Linked DNA regions of Homo sapiens: all the other regions are reported to be linked to region 1. The links are microRNA targets in miRTarBase. Many come from high-throughput screens and were not tested one by one. Region 1 holds a microRNA gene; each other region holds the end of a gene's coding sequence.

Region 1 (4,327 bases):
TCCTAAAAACCACAAATGGATAGTTCTTCCAAAGACCCAGGGTCCTCATAGAACTCTCTAGAAACAGTAATGATCTCCTTGGAGCTCAAACAGTCCCTGAGCTATCAGACCCTGCCAACACCAGGGCTTAATGCTCAGGGAACACATTTTATGAGAGCAACTGTCACTCCTGAGCTTCTGTGGGTCACTTGAAATCACCCAGTTATTTTTCACTCAGCTGAGGGGCAGTATAGTTCTGACGGGTGGCTTTGGGTTCACTGCCTTCAACTCCAGTCAGAAAACGTTAGTGCTGAAATGGATCCGGGGTACAAATAGTTGGGTTGTTGACATGCTTTCTTCTGTTGTATACATAAAGGTTCCACATACAAAAACCTATTTGCAAAGAGAGGTCAGATGCTTAAATGTGAATAATAAAAATGCTTATCCATGGGTACTCTAGTTTAATCTCCTCATTACAAGAGGAATCTGAGGCCCAGAGAGAGAAAGTGACTTGTCCAAAATCATACAACTAATATTGCAGCCAGCAATAGAACAAAGAGAGCTCAGGAATTCTGGGTCCCAGTGACTATGGAAAACAATTGTCTGAAATTTTACCACTAGAAATTGCTACTCCCTGCCCCATACTACCTGAGTCTTATTTAGGTAAACAGATAGTAAATATAAACATTATCATTGTAAAAAAATGTTTTAAAGACCAAATATATTTATAAAGTTTTTTAAAGTGATCTTTTGTACCCCTTTGTACTCTACCCAATCCCATTCATTTCCCGAAGGATGTCCGATGTTAACAAATGAGTGTCAAGTCCTTCTAGGCCTTTTTCTATGCACTTAGGAATGTGTTTACAATATATGACTGGGTTTTAAAAATACATACTTATATACTATATGTATGTAGATATAAGTATAAATTTATAAGCCATATTTATATATTATGCCATTTATAAATATAAAATCAAATTGTTCTGTTTTGAGACTTCCTTTGTTCACCTAACCTTGTGTCTTGGCACTTTTTCTCTCTCTTTTTTTTTTCTTTTTGAGATTTTGCTCTTGTTGCCCAGGCTGGAGTGCAATGGCACAATCTCAGCTCACTGCAACCTCCACCTCCCAGATTCAAGCGATTCTCCTGCCTCAGACTCCTGAGTAGCTGGGATTACAGGTGCCTGCCTCCATGCCCACCTAATTTTTGTATTTTTAGTAGAGACAGGGTTTCGCCATGTTGGCCAGGCTAGTCTCAAACTCCTGACCTCAGGTGATATAACCATCTTGGCCTCCCAAAGTGCTGGGATTACAGGTGTGAGCCACCGTGCCCATCCATGGCACTCTTTCCATGTTGGTCAATAGAATCTTGATGTTTTGTCGATGGCTTCATGGTATTCCATTGTATGGATGTACCACAATTTCTATTTAGCCAATTGTCTATCTTTAGGCATTCAGAATAGCTAAAGATGGACAATTGGCTAAATAGACACTGTGGTACACAATGGCTTTTTCTGTTGCAGCCATGGTTGCAGTAAACTTCCTTGTATATAAATCTCTGGGACATGAGCCAATGTTTCTTCAGAAGAGATACCTAGAAGTGAAGATGTGAGATCATTTGTCTACAGAAGGTTTCACTTTAAGTTGTAATGACTCGCCTTAATGTTGTCCAAAGGTTGTTTTTCTAAACCTTATTTGAGGGCCCACAACAGCCATAAACTTTTACTTATGTTTCACCTAGAATCATCACAGCAATCCTGTGAAAGCAAAGTATGATCCCTATTTTTCAAAAAAACTCACTGAAGTAGGAACAGACGAAAAATATCTCAATTTGTGAAAAAGCATTTACAAAAAAAAAAAAACATCTAACATCATACTTAATGGTGCCAACTGAACGTCTTCCCACTGAGATTGGGAATAAGACAAAGATGTCTGCTTTCAACATCTTCTTCAACAGGGTAGTAGAAGTTCTAGCCAGTGCAATATAGCAAGAAAAAGAAATACAAGACATACAGATTGAAAAGAAAGAAATAAAATCATCTCTATTTGCAGATAACATGATTGTCTATTTATACAATCCTAAAGAATCTAAAAAACATAAACTAAAATAAACCTCCTAGAATTAATAAGTGAATTAAGTAAGGTCACAGAATACATGATCAACACTCAAAAATCAAATGCATTTGTTTATCCTGTCAATGAACATGGGGAAACTGAAATTAAAAACAATACCATTTACAATCACTTCAAAGAAAATAAAATACTTAGGTATAAATACATATACTATGTCTCTGATGAAAATTACAAAATGCTGATGAAAAAATAAAGACCTACATAAATGAGGAGAAATACCATGTTCATAGACTGGAAGACTCATCATAGTGGAGATGTCAATTCTTCCCAAATTATCAATAGTTTAACACAATTCTTATCAAAATCCCAAAAAGATTTTGTAGACAAAGCCAAGCTTATTCTAAAATTTGTATGGGAGGCAAAAATTTTGAAAATAAAATAGCTGTGATAACTATTTTAAAAAGTAGGAGGAAGCACTCTACCTTGTGTTAAGTCTCACTATATAGCTACAGTTGCCAAGGTAGTATGATATTGGTGGAGAGATAAACCCACAAATCAATGAAACAGAATAGAGGACTCAGAAATAGACCCACAAAAATATACTCAACTGATTTTTTACCAAAAATACCAAAAGTGCAAAAGCGAGTGAATGAAGGAAGGAAACTCTTTTCAACAAGTGGTGTTGGAGCAAAAAACAAAACAAAACAAAATCTCTTGTTTTAACTTAAGTCTCATACTTTAAAACTTTATACAAAAATTAACATAGATCACAGACTTAGATGTAAACATAAAACTTCAACACTTTTAGAGAAAAATATGGGAGAAAATCTTTAGCACTTAGAGCTAAGTTAAGGAGGTCTTAGACTTAAAATCAAAAGCACAATTTATAAAAGAAAAAATTGAGGCATCTTGATACTTCATCAAAATTAAAAATGTTTGCTCTGAAAAACACCCTATTAAGAGAATGAAAAGGCTGGGCACAGTGGCTCACACCTGTAATCCCAGCATTTTGGGAGGATCACGAGAGGTCGGGAGTTCGAGACCAGCCTGACCAACATGGAGAAACCCCGTCTCTACGAAAATACAAAAAATTAGACAGGCTTGGTGGCAGATGCCTGTAATCCCAGCTACTCGGGAGGCTGAGGCAGGAGAATTGCCTGAACCCAGGAGGTGGAGGTTGCGGTGAGCCAAGATGCGCCATTGCACTCTAGCCTGGGCAACAAGAGCGAAACTCCATCTCAAAAAAAAAAAAAAAAAAAAAACAGAATGAAAAAATAAACCAGAGACTGGGAGAAAATATTGGCAAACCACATATTCATCTAACAGACTTGTATCTAGACTATATAAAGAACTCTCAAAACATAACAGTAGAAGACAAAACAATCTAATTACAAAATGGGCCAAAAACCACAAATAAATGGCTCATAGAAGAAAATGTACAGATGGCAAATAAGCATATGAAAATATGTTCAACACCATTAGCCATTAGAAAAATTCAAATTAAAACTACAATGAGTTGTTATGGTGTAACTATTAGAATGGCTAAAATTAAAAAAAGCAATAACACCAAATGCTAGTGAGGATGTAAAGAAACTGGATCACTTACACACTGCTGATGGAAATGTCAAATGGTAGCATCACCCTGGAAAATAGCTTGCCAGTTTCTTATAAAACTAAGCATGCACTTACCATTTGCACATTTGTACATTTATCTCAGAGAAATGAAAACTTAAGTTCACACGAAAACCTGTACATGAGTGTTCATAGAAGCTTTATTGGAAATATCTAAAACCTAGAAACAACCCAAATGTCCTTCAATGGTTGAATGGTTAAACATCCATACCATGGAATACTATGCAGCAATAAACAGGAATAAACTCTTAATACAGCCAACATGGATGAATCTCAAGAGAATTACACTGGGTGAAAAAAGCCAATCTCAAAAGTTACATATTGTAACCTTTTGAATTTTTATAGTATTCTTGAAATGACAATATTATAGAGATAGAGAATAATTGATCAGTGGTTTCCAGGGCTAGGGATAAGGAAGGAGAGGAGATAAGTCTATAAGAGGTAGAATGAGGGAGGCTTGTTGTGATGAAACAGTTCTCTATCTTGATTACGGTAATGGTTACATGAATCACATACACGTGATAAAACTTCATATAACTATACACACAGATGGGCACACACACACATAGAATAAGTGCATGTAAAACCTGTGAAATCTGAATAAACTCTGTGGATTGCACCAATGTTAATTTTCTGGTTTTGATGT
Region 2 (4,138 bases), not on the chromosome of region 1:
CAATCGAAGCAGGAGCTGAGGATGTCAAGGAAACTGAAGATGAAGAAGAAAGGAACGTTTTTAAAGTAAGCATGAAAACATGGGTGTTTGGTGGGCTTCCGGGAGGACCCTGATAGATGCCTTATGCATGCCTCTTGGTTTCTTCCTTCATGTGCCCCAGGGTATAGGTGAGACAGTTCACATATTGTACAAACATTTATTAAGTGAATACTGAATAGGACCGACTCTAGTGAGGACTATGAGAAAGAAAGAGTCAAAACATTGAAAACGATGTCCCTGCCAGTGAAGAGCTCAAACCCAGTGATCCATTCCAGTACTGACATTCAGGACTTTGCAAGGTCCTGTGTGGCTTTGTCTCATTACCTCCTGGCTCCTCACCTCCTGACTTTCCTTTATCCCTAGTTTATTTGTGATGCCTCTTCACTGCACCAAGTGAGGAAGAAGCTGGACTCCCTGGGCCTGTGTTCTGTGTCCTGTGCACTAGAGTTCATCCCCAACTCAAAGGTGCAGCTGGCTGAGCCCGACCTGGAACAGGCCGCACATCTCATTCAGGCTCTCAGCAACCACGAGGATGTGATTCACGTCTATGATAACATTGAATAACCAGGCTACATGTGCCCCCGGGTTCCTTCCTAGAAATGTGGCAGCCCATTCCAGCACACAGGCTTCTGCAGCAATCTCTGAGGGTAAAGCCGGTGGGAGGCTCAGCAGGCCAGGAGGCCCAAGGACAGGACTTGCGACCTTGAAGCCAAAGGAATCTCACTTGTGGGGCCTCCTTGTCAGCTCTGCTGCTGTCTCAGAGCCATCTGGATGAGTGTCCCGACACCCTCTCGGATGCAGGGCAGGACCACCCAGCTGGTCAGACTCTGATGTTGGGTAGCTGGCCTCTGTGGGGATTGTAAGTGCCCTGAGGCGCTCTGTACTAGAAACTGCTCTTAATAATAACGGTGATTATTGGTTGCTGCATTGCTGTTGTATGGCTCTTGAGTCTTCCTGAGTTTGTGTCCAGCTGTTGGGATCCTCTGGACTAACTTTCAAGTCCCTAGGCTTAGCTCTACTACTCCAATCCCAGGATTATTTTTTTAATTGGCCATAGAAATGTAGTTGTATCCAGGCACTCCATGGTCTGATGCTGGTCTTACAGCCTAAACCTGTCATTCATTCATGCAACTAATATTTCTGGAACACTAGCTATATACCAAGAACTGTACTTATCTAGAGCATAAGCTATTCAACTGGTGTCCTGTGTTAGATCCTGCTCTAGAAGGTAGGACCTGAACACAGGACTGCTCTTTACTGGAGCTGTCCCAGGGCAGTGTGAGCTGCTGTGCAAGCATCTGTTGCTCTCTTTGTGTGACTTCTGTGCCCTTCTTTCACCAAACAGCTTAAGGTTCTAGCCCAGTAGGAAATCAAGTGCCAGTGATAAGGGACTTGGCAGTGGCTCACACCTATAATCCCATCTACTCGAGAGGCTGAGGCGGGAGGATCACTTGAGCCCAGGAGTCTAAGGCTACAGTGAGCTATGATTGCACCATTGCATTCCAGCTTGGGTGACAGAGTGAGAACTCTTCTTTTTTTTTTTTTTTTTTTTTTTTTTGAGGCAGAGTCTCACTCTGTTGCCCAGGCTGGAGAGCAGTGGCACAATCTCAGCTCATTGCAGCCTTGACCTCCTGGACTCAAGCAGTCCTTCCACCTCAGCCTCCCAAGTAGCTAGAACTACAGGTGCATGCCACCACGCCCAGCTAATTTATATATATTTTTGTAGAGATGGGGTTTCACTATGTTGTCCAGGTTGGTGTCGAGCTCCTGAGCTCAAGTGGTCTGCACACTCGGCCTCCCAAAGTGCTGGGATTACAGGCATGAGCCACCACGCCCGGCTGAGTCTGTCTCTTTTTTTTTTGAGACAGAGTCTTGCTCTGTGGCCCAGGCTGGAGTGCAGTAGCATGATCTTGGCTCACTGCAACCTCCACCTCCCAGGTTCAAGTGATTCTCCTCCTTCAGCCTCCCAAGTAGCTGGGATTACAAGCAGGCACCACCATGCCCGGCTAATTTTTTTGTGGAGGGGGAGGGGAGAAAATTAAACTTTATTTATTTTTAAAAGCAAACCACCGGGAAAATATAACACAGCCTGGAAGCAGCAAATGGACAGGCTATATTATCATTTCAAGTAGTAAGTTGATGAAAATACAATGAGGTTGCTATCAAAACAATAACGTGCCATGCCGGGGCAGGAACACTGCAAGTTGCGAAAGCCCCAGGCAAAAATGGTTTTTGGTACTGGGGTCTGCCTCTCCTTTGCTATAAGGGAGTCAGCTCATCCTAGCCCAAGTTGCTTACTTTTTCTTCCTTGGATTTCCTGTTGCCAGGGTTTGTCTCAATTGTGCTTTGTTAATTCAGGGGGCTAAGTAGGCAGTGCTAGGTTTAGGCTTTCATTCCATCCGTTCTATAAAAACCAGGTTTTTCCAAATCCAGTACTTCATAACTCTGTTATAATCAAGTAGCCAACTGCTCTTCTTTTACTGTTCATTTCTAGATACTAGTATATATCACAATCAAAACCCCCTTCTCTTCACCGGGAAAGTGTTACTGCAAGATTGTCCTGTCATTTTGCTACACACAGCCTCGGCCCATCAGCCAGTAATTATGCTTCCCATAATTAGTATGTCATCACCTCTCATGTTTTTGCATGGTCTCCAGGCTGAAAGATGCAGCATGTAATAATTTTAAGAAATCTACATCTACATCTTGATGACCAGAAATGGGGATCCTCAAGGAAACTTTCAAAGTTCTTATCCAAACTAGTCTCCCTCCCAATTCCACATCTTAAAATCAATTTGTATCGCCTTGTATAAATTACACAAAACCAAGAAAACAAAGACCCAGAAAACTTTTTTGCCCTTCTAAGCGGGTGACCTCATGGATTTTGTTTCACAGCTTACGGAAAATGGTGTGGTGACACTTCTGGTAAACAGGATGTTGGCAACAAAGAGAAAATATCTCTCCTCAAACTCCACCAACTCTAACCTGCCAGCCTGTTGGTACCTGTGTAATAAGAAGAGTTTAGTGCCTTGGAGGGCTCTGGCTTGTTACAGGGGAGATCCTTACTGGCAGGACAAGCACTGGCCATAGGATATATAAGCTCTAAAACTCTCCTGTAATATCTCTGACCCAATTTAGCACCACTTTTTTCCATTTCATTTTTTAGGACTGAAACATAAAAGAACCAGTGTCCAGAGGCAAGTGACATATGTCTTACACTTGTGGCCATCCTTCATTTCTTCATAAACTTTGCTTAAAAGACTAAAATTCCCAATTCCTTATAAAAAATATATTCTTGCCCTCAGCCCCAGTGGCCACTGGCAAAGACTGTTATTTCCCAATGGATAAGAGAGCCTCCTTCATCTTCTTGGCCATAGTTGGGATGAGGTGCGTGTGGTCATCCACACACTTGGTCACACAACCGTCCAGCTGCTGCTTCACCTGAAGCTCCTTACTCCCAGTATCCATTGAATCTTTGGCTTTGTTGTTGCAATGCATGGCGCACCGGGCCAGGTGGTGCCGGAACTTCTCCAACTCACTGGTGAGCAAAGCCCGGGCTTGAGCCAGAGGCACATGGCAGTGCTTTGATGTACTGGTGCACCTACTGCATGGAGGCCTGGCTGTCCTCACAACAGCTGGTGCTGCACCGGAACATGAGACCCTGCATCTTCCAGATGTTCTCTCTCTCCAGACTCTTCACCATGGAGTCCACCACCTCCTGCACCCACAGCTGCTGCAGCTCTGCCATGGCGTCCCCATACCGCCCTGCACCGTGCCACCCCGGCTAATTTTTGTATCTTTAGTAGAGACCAGGTTTGGCCATGTTGGCCAGGCTGGTCTCGAACTCCTGACCTTAGGTGATCCGTCCATCTTGGCCTCCCAAAGTGCTGGGATTACAGGCATGAGCCATGGCGCCCAGCCTCTGTCTTTCAAAAAAAAAAAAAGGGACTTACTAGGGCCTGCTTTGCCTGGGTCCCTATGCATCCTGGGATTGGTCAGAGTGAACCAATGAGAAGACTGAGCTGCTCTCAAGAAGGGCTACCACAAGCTGGTTTTGAAAGCTTCTTGGTTCTGAGAACAACCAGCCCTAGATCCTTTT
Region 3 (4,138 bases), not on the chromosome of region 1:
CCTGCTCTCTGGGTCTAGCCTCTCACCACCCACCCCTCTGTCTCTCTTCCTTCCTCAGGTCTTCTCTCCGCATCACCATCCTCCTCACCCTCCCAGTCTCCCCCCAGGGACCCCCCTGGATTCCCCATGGCTCCTCCCAATTTCTTCCTTCCTTCCCCATCTCCACCCGCCTTCCTGCCCTTTGCTGGGGTCCTCCGAGGCCCTGGCCGGCCGGTGCCCCCCTCCCCAGCTCCAGGAGGCAGCTGAGGGGGATGGGGGGGCAGATCTTGGACTCATGAGGAGGGGCCCCCCTGCCCTGTGGGGTCAACCCTTCTGGAAACTGTGAAGATCTCACTCTGCCCCCCCCCCCCATCTTCGGGACCAGGATTTGCACAGAAGCACATGCACCTACCCATACACCCCCTCTTCTGAGCACAGATGTTCCCCCATCTCGCTCCCTCCCAGGACTCTGACCCCAGCATTCTCAGGCACCAGTCCCTGTCCGGAATGCCACCCACATCTTCCATTTCCATGTCCCCTCCCAGAGCTGGTGGACCCAGGGAACAGCCACTCCCCTCCACTCTCTACCAGATAACTGAGGAGGGGAGAGGTGGGCCGTAACGGGCACGGATCACGATGTAAATTATTAAGCATTTTGGTTGGATTTCTTTTGTAATAAACTATTTTTGTACCATATCCCTTGGGTGCATGGGCCTCTTTCATGAGATGGACCTGGCGGAAGTGCCTTCGTGTGTGTGCACACCCGTGCACTGAATCCAGTTGACTCCCAGAGTGATGTTGTGAGTCTCAGACAGACAATCTCCTGTGTGTCACTCTGGGACTTCTGGTGTGTTTGGTTGTGAATGTTGCCATCATTGTCACTGTACCATTGTTTCTAAGGAGGACGTGGTGTGTGATATCTTTTTTTTTTTTTTTTCAAGACAGAGTCTTGCTCTGTCGCCCAAGCTGGAGTGCAGTGGCACGATCTCGGCTCACTGCAACCTCCGCCTCCCCGGTTCAAGCGATTCTCCTGCCTCAGCCTCCCGAGTAGCTGGGATTACAGGTGTGCACCACCACACCTGGCTAATTTTTGTAATTTTAGTAGAGACGGGGTTTCACCATGTTGGTCAGGCTGGTCTTGAACTCCTGACCTCATGATCCTCCTGTGTCGGCCTCCCAAAGTGCTGGGATTACAGGCATGAGCCACTGCACCTGGCCGGTGTGTGATATCTTTCCAGGGCACCCTGTTGGATTCCGTAGTGACCCTGGGCATGTGTGTTTCTGTAGTGTGGGGGTCCTGGTGATAACCCACAGCTGACTTCAGCCCCAATCGTCTCTGGCTGTCCGAGTGCGTGGTGCTTGGGAGTGTTCCTAACATTGAGATCTGGGGTGATGCTGTGATTGTTGCCCTGTGACTGCCTCACATGGCGTGAGACAGTTTTACTTAGTGGTTCCATGGGGCCCCTCTAATGGACCACATCTGTGGTTTTGTTGTTGTTTTTTTGGGGGGGGATGGAGTCTCACTCTGTCACCCAGGCTGGAGTGCAATGGCGTGATCTCGGCTCACTGCAACCTCCGCCTCCTGGGTTCAAGAGATTCTCCTGCCCCAGCCTCCAGAGTAGCTGGGATTACAGGCACCCACCACCATGCCTGGCTAATTTTTGTATTTTTAGTAGAGAGGGGGTTTTGCCACATTGGCCAGGCTGGTCTCAAACTCCTGACCTCAGGCGATCTGCCTGCTTTGGCCTCCCAAAGTGCTGGGATTACAAGCGTGAGTCACCGCGCCCAGCCACACATCTGTGCTTTGACTCTGGGGTATGCCTCTGTGTGTCAGTCGGGGTTTGTAATGGTTTCCTGTTGCCACTATAACAAATCACAAATTCAGTGGCTTGAAATGATGCTAACTTTTTTTTTTTTTTTTTTAAAACAGAGTTTCACTCTGTCACCCAGGCTGGAGTGCAGTGGCACAATCTCAGCTCACTACAACCTCCACTTCCCTGGTTCAAGCCATTCTCCTACCTCAGCCTCCCAAGTAGCTGGGACTACAGGCGTGCACCACCACACCCGGTTAATTTTTTGTATTTTTACTAGTCACAGGGTTTTGACATGTTGGCCAGACTGATCTGGAACTCCTGACCTCAAGTGATCCACCCACCTCAGCCTCCCAAAGTGCTGGGATTACAAAAGGTGTGAGCCACCGTGCCAGCCAAACAATACTAATTTATTCTCTTACAGTTCTGGGCATAAGAAGTCCAAAATCGGCCGGGCGCGGTGGCTCACGCCTGTAATCCCAGCACTTTGGGAGGCCGAGGCAGGCGGATCACGAGGTCAGGAGATCGAGACCATCCTGGCTAACCCGGTGAAACCCAGTCTCTACTAAAAATACAAAAAATTAGCTGGGCATGGTGGCGGGCACCTGTAGTCCCAGCTACTCGGGAGGCTGAGGCAGGGGAATGGTGTGAACCCGGGAGGCAGAGCTTGCAGAGAGCCGAGATCGCACCACTGCACTCCAACCTGGGTGACAGAGTGAGACTCCGTCTCAAAAAAAAAAAAAAAAAAAAAGAAGTCCAAAATTGAGGCCAAGCCTGGTGGCTCACACCTGTAATCCCAGCACTTTGGGAGGCTGAGGCAGGAGAATCCCCTGAGACCAGAAGTTTGAGACCAGCCCGAGCAGTATAGTGAGACCCTGTCTGTACAAAAAAAAAAAAAAAAAAAAAATTAGCTGGGCATGGTGGCAGGCACCTGTAGTCCCAGCTACTCGGAAGACTGAGGTGGGAGGATTGCTTGAGTCTGTGAGTTCGAGGCTGCAGTGAGCTATGATCGCACCACAGCACTCCAGCCTGGGCAACAGGTGAGGCCCTGCCTCAAAAAAATAAATAAAAGAACCATGGTGTCAGCATCTGCTTCTTGTGGTGAAGGCTTCAGGCTGCTTCTACTCATGGCAGAAGGCCGAGGGAACCACACGTGTGTGGGGATCAAGTGGCAGGAGGGGAAGCGAGAGAGAGACAGAGAGAGAGAAGTGCCAGCCTCCCTTTAACACCCATCTCTCATGGGCGTCAATGGGGAGAACTCATTCACCCGCCAGGGAGGACATTAATCTATTCATGAGGGACCTGCCCCCATGGCCCAAACACACCTCACATCAGGCCCACCTCCAACCTTGGGAATCAAAGTTCTTTTTTTTTTTTTGAGACAGAGTCTCACTCTGTCGCCCAGGCTGCAGTGCAGAGGCCCAATCTCGGCTCACTGCAGCCTTTGCCTCCAAGGTTCAAGCGATTCTCCAGCCTCAGCCTCCCAAGTAGCTGGAATTACAAGCATGCACCACCATGCCCAATTAATTTTTGTATTTTTAGTAGAGACGGGGTTTCACCCTGTTGGCCAGGCTGGTCTTGAACTCCTGACCTCAAGTGATCCACCCGCCTCGGCCTCCCAAAGTGCTGGGATTACAGGTGTGAGCCACCGTGCCAGGCCCAAATTTCTTCATTTTTTTGGACACAGAGTCTCACTCTATCACCCAGGCTGGGGTGCAGCAGGAGATCCTAGCTCACTGCAACCTCGACCTGGGTTCAAGTGAGGGGATCAGATTTCAACATGAGGTTTTGAAGGAAAAAATATTCAAACCATAGCACTGAGTGTTTTTTGTTTTTTATGGGGTTTTTTGGTTTGTTTGTTTGTTTAATCTGTGGGGGCTTCTCTGGGTCGTCATGTGAATTGCTGATAGTGAACATTTAATCCCCATCACTCTGTAATGTAGTTGCATCTGTGGGGCCAGCTGCCTTAACAACTTCCTGGATGGCATCACTGGGGTCTGTGAAGGGCTGTGTGTGTGCACACAAACACTCATGCACACGCACTTCTGGATGGCCTGTGTGAGCACTGACTGGGTGACCTGTGTGTGCCTGGCCCGCCTGACTGGGACGTCCATGCGTCTTTCTGTTTGCAACTATGTTTCAGTGTTTCTGACCCAGACCCTGTGCTCTGGTATCTCTGAAGCTGCCAGGCTTGAAGGGCATGTTAATGTCCTGTTGCTGGCCAGGCACGATGGCTCATGCCTGTAATCCCAGCACTTTGGGAGGCCGAGGCGGGCAGATCACTTGAGGTCAGGAGTTTGAGACCAGCCTGGCCAACATGGTGAAATCCCGTCTCTGCTAAAAATACA
Region 4 (4,138 bases), not on the chromosome of region 1:
AACTATATACACTTTAATGCCTAATACATGTAGTGTTTAAAAAACAGATTTACCTAGCTTTCTCTGTTCGAGCCCACCTTGTTCTCTACAGCTTGCTACCTTTAGTCTGAGAGTTGGAAAAATAAATCTAGTGAGCTTGTGCCATGACATGGCAAACTCCCTGGCCACAGGACACAAAATTATCTTTCACATTTCTTTTTTTTTTTCCCTTGGCCATCCAATGAGTCTTACCTAGTCCTTCCATATATGTCTCTGGGACTCGTCCTTTCTTCTCCATTCTTGTCATATCACTCACATCTAGAGGTTTATTGAATTTAGTTTATTGCAATATCTATGTAACTGGTTTCCTAATTTCCATGTCTCTCTACCTCAAATACATCTGGCAGCAATATAAAAGATTAAATTTCTAAAAATAACATTTAATTAAGTAATCTGTTTAAAAACCTTGGCTAGCTCTCTCATGCCTATTGAGTAAACTCCAAATACCATTAGCCTGGTATTCAGCGCCTTCCAAAATCTCAGTCCGAATGTATTTTATTTCTTTTTTCTTTCTTTTTGTTGTTGTTGTTGTTGTTGTTGTTGACAGAATCTCACTCTGCCACCCAGGCTGGAGTGCAATGGCATGATCTAGGCTCACTACAACCTCCACCTCCCGGGTTCAAGCGATTCTTGTGCCTCAGCCTCCCAAGTAGCTGGGATTACAGGTGTGTACCACCATGCCTGGCTAACTTTTTTTTGTATTTTTATTAGAGACAGTGTTTTACCATGTTGGCCAAGCTGGTCTTGAACTCCTGGGCTCAAGTGATCTGCCTGTCTCAGCCTCCCAAAGTGCTGGGATTACAGGCATGAGCCACCACGCCCAGCCTGTATTTTCTAGATTTATCATCTACCACCTCTTGGACAAAACTGGTCTCCTTACTATCCCCTGAACCTCCACAAATTCTTTTTGCACCTTTGCTTATGGTGTTCCTCCTGCCTAGAATACCCCTCTCCATTTTTGGAAGCCTGTTCAAAGCTTAACTTTTCTTCACTAAACCCTCCCTGAACATTTACAATTCACAGTGATCTCTTTCTTTGAATGTGATTTGAGTTATGAATGCTGTCGTTCATTTGGCAATACTCACATATGACTTCTCCTGTCTTACATTGTTAATTCTTGTACTATTTAATTTTGTGCGTCTTGCTTTCTCAACTAGACTGCGAGATCCTTGGCAATAGGGGCCATTTATTACATTAAAAAATCTACCCACAGTGCATATTGCTGTGCTAGGGGCTTTGACAGGGACTAGTTACAGACAGAAGAGTGCTGGAGTCTCCTCAAGATGCCAAACTCTCAGAATGCAGCATTTACTAGAGGTGATGATTCCTCACACATACATATCAAATATAATCACTTTAAAGGTGAAACTAACTCTACAGGTTACTCTAAGATATTAAGGAATTACAAACTGCCTTGGAAATACTTGTAAAAGTCCCCTATTAAAATACAAAATTAACTTTTAATAAATAAGTTCATGCTCTCCTGAAAGCTTAAAAATGACATATAAAGAAAAAATGGGCTGGACGCGGTGGCTCACGCCTGTAATCCCAGTACTTTGGGAGGCTGAGGCGGGTGGATCACAAGGTCAGGAGTTCGAGACCAGCCTGAGCAGCATGGTGAAACCCCGTCTCTACTAAAAATACAAAAATTAGCTGGGCGTGGTGGCACCTGCCTGTAATCCCAGCTACTCAGGAGGTTGAGGCAGGAGAATCATTTGAACCCGGGAGATGGAGGTTGCAGTGAGCCAAGATGGCGCCACTGCACTCCAGCCTGGGTGACAGAGCAAGACTTTGTCTCAAAAAAGAAAAAATGGTACCCCCCAAAAAATAAAAATAAAAATGGTCAGGCCAGGAGCATAATCTCTAGGATTTACTTGATCACAAAGTGCTCAAAAAGCCAAGGCCCCGTGCAATCCATTTATATTTTAGTGACTGTTTTTTCATCTGTAAAAGAGGCTAAACCACATAAGGAAAATAAGTGTAGGCTGGGCAAAGTGGCTCATGCCTGTAATCCCAGCACTTTTGGCAGATCACGATGTCAGGAGATCGAGACCATCCTGGCTAACACAGTGAAACCCCGTCTCTACTAAAAAAAAAATACAAAAAATTAGCCGGGCGTGGTGGCAGGCGCCTGTAGTCTCAACTACTCGGGAGGCTGAGGCAGGAGAATGGCGTGAACCAGGGAGGCAGAGGTTGCAGTGAGCCAAGATCGCGCCATTGTACGCCAGCCTGGGCGACAGAACGAGACTCCATCTCAAAAAAAAAAAAAAAAGGAAGTCTAGAACCCGAGTTCCCATAGAAGGCAGCCAAAATGATTTGGATAATTCAAGCTAAAAAATGTCATTCACATCTTGGTTTCTCCTGAATTATTTAGGCAATCTGAGATTTCTTCATAGACAGAAATATAATCCCAAGCTAGTTTGCCAAATCTGTGGTGGTTTTCTACATTGACCCAAGACATGCTGCAACCATTAAGTTCTAATCAAAATGTTTATTAATCTTGTAACTGAAGAAAATAATCATTACAAAACTCCTACCTCAGATTGCTGTAAAAGCTTTGAAGTTCTGTGGGATGTACTGACTGCAATCTCAGAAATGTTTTATCTTTGTAGATGGCCCCAGATGATAAAGCTTTGGCAACAAATGCTGCTTGCCCTGTATAAATCCCTTAGATGTCTTGTATGTAGAAGGGAGACCTACTAGATTACCTAGCGTCATCAGATCATAACATATATATATGGTATCTCAAGCTTACTATTATATATATGTTATATATACAGAGTCTCACTGTCGCCCAGACTGGAGTGCAGTGGCGTGATCTCAGCTCACTGCAACCTCCACCTCCTGGGTTCAAGCGATTCTCCTGCCTCAACCTCCTCAGTAGCTGGGATTACAGGCATGCACCACCATGACCAGCTAATTTTTGTATTTTTAGTAGAGATGGGGTTTCACCATGTTGGTCAGGCTGGTCTTGAACTCCTGACCTCATGATCCGCCTGCCTCAGCCTCCCAAAGTGTTGGGATTACAGGCATGAGCCACCGTGTCCAGCCTAAGCTTCGTATATTTGTAAATATATCCTTTCCTTTTGAAATTTTCTGTGAAATAATGCTTTTGGTTCCTTTAGCCCAGCCTTGACTACTAATTGGCAAGGATTCAAATGATCTCCCCAATTTTAAATATCCGTGTATTACGGAAATGTTATCAATTTTCTTCTCCTCCTACCAAGGATTAGTATGATAATGAATTGAGCTTCTTGTCAAGAAAAATGCTAAGTTCAAAGTATTATTTCTTTCACTTCTAATTACAAATAAGTTTTACCTTTTATTGTATTCCATTATACAATTTTACATAGTACCATTATTTTAAGCAATAATTAAGCAAATTGAACTACTGTTTTTGAGCTCTACTTTTCAGCATATAGATTTACCTAAAAAAGTACAAACCAAGCACAGTGGTGCAATTTTCCAGGCACTTTCAAGTTGCTTATTTACAAATATGTAAGCACCCTGTTGGAACACATGAAAATTTTGGTGTCGAGAAGAAACACTCCATGTATATCAAATCTTTAAATTTTAACATTTGCACAGCTCCAAATATTCCTGAGAAAGGTCAGTCTCATTGTCACGTACATCTGCATTTCCTCACACTTCAGCGTATCTTGGGGAACCATAACCTCGGTCACTTGATGTACCACTAATTGCACAAAATACATGTAATGTGTTGCTCATCCAGGGAGAATGCATTGTGTCTTCTTGTAATATCTAAAACAGAAGAAATCAGCATGATTATCATGAAGCAAAATAGCCACTGCCAAAAAAAGAATGTGTATATGAAATTGCAGGCATATTTCAATTTATCACTGACAGTTATTTAAAAAGACAGAAAGCAGAGAGAGCAAAGAATAACATTACCGACTTAAGTCTTCAAAGCTGTATTACAAAGGCAGCATATCAAAAAAGCAGAAAAGATCTAGTTACTCATTAAGAAAAACAAAGACTGTAAAATGCAAAATTCAATAAAAAGCGAGAGGTAACACAATCTTTAAAATATTTTTTAACAGATGGTCATAACAAGAGCTCTAAATGGTAGACTCTGACA

What was found. Region 1 holds the annotated microRNA hsa-miR-4662b (AAAGAUGGACAAUUGGCUAAAU, at 1,442-1,463, shown strand). A microRNA usually pairs through its seed, bases 2 to 8, with sites in the 3' UTR of a target mRNA and lowers its output. Matches are read on the target gene's strand: a 7mer-m8 pairs with bases 2 to 8, a 7mer-A1 pairs with bases 2 to 7 and ends in A, and an 8mer does both.
Region 2: miRTarBase lists TACO1 as a target of hsa-miR-4662b. The part of its 3' UTR that is shown has no 7-base or 8-base seed match.
Region 3: miRTarBase lists BCL3 as a target of hsa-miR-4662b. Seed matches in the 3' UTR shown: 7mer-m8 at 349-355.
Region 4: miRTarBase lists DOCK11 as a target of hsa-miR-4662b. The part of its 3' UTR that is shown has no 7-base or 8-base seed match.

What each region holds. Positions count from the first base shown.
Region 1 is chr8:124,819,124-124,823,450 of GRCh38, reverse strand. MIR4662B (microRNA 4662b) reads left to right here and starts at 1,393; the gene lies at 1,393-1,473. It overlaps MIR4662A (microRNA 4662a), which reads right to left and starts at 1,466; the gene lies at 1,400-1,466.
Region 2 is chr17:63,607,400-63,611,537 of GRCh38, forward strand. It overlaps TACO1 (translational activator of cytochrome c oxidase I), which reads left to right. Exons shown (of 5, transcript NM_016360.4): 4 at 1-65; 5 at 403-966. The coding sequence ends at 603. It also overlaps the pseudogene FAM136DP. Among named protein-coding and RNA genes, the nearest start is that of TACO1, 8.6 kb to the left of the region's middle. RefSeq lists enhancers at 3,207-3,707, 3,708-4,138.
Region 3 is chr19:44,759,370-44,763,507 of GRCh38, forward strand. BCL3 (BCL3 transcription coactivator) reads left to right here. Exons shown (of 9, transcript NM_005178.5): 9 at 59-675. The coding sequence ends at 246. Among named protein-coding and RNA genes, the nearest start is that of MIR8085, 2.8 kb to the left of the region's middle.
Region 4 is chrX:118,685,351-118,689,488 of GRCh38, reverse strand. DOCK11 (dedicator of cytokinesis 11) reads right to left here. Exons shown (of 53, transcript NM_144658.4): 53 at 3,342-3,801. The coding sequence ends at 3,682. Among named protein-coding and RNA genes, the nearest start is that of IL13RA1, 40 kb to the left of the region's middle.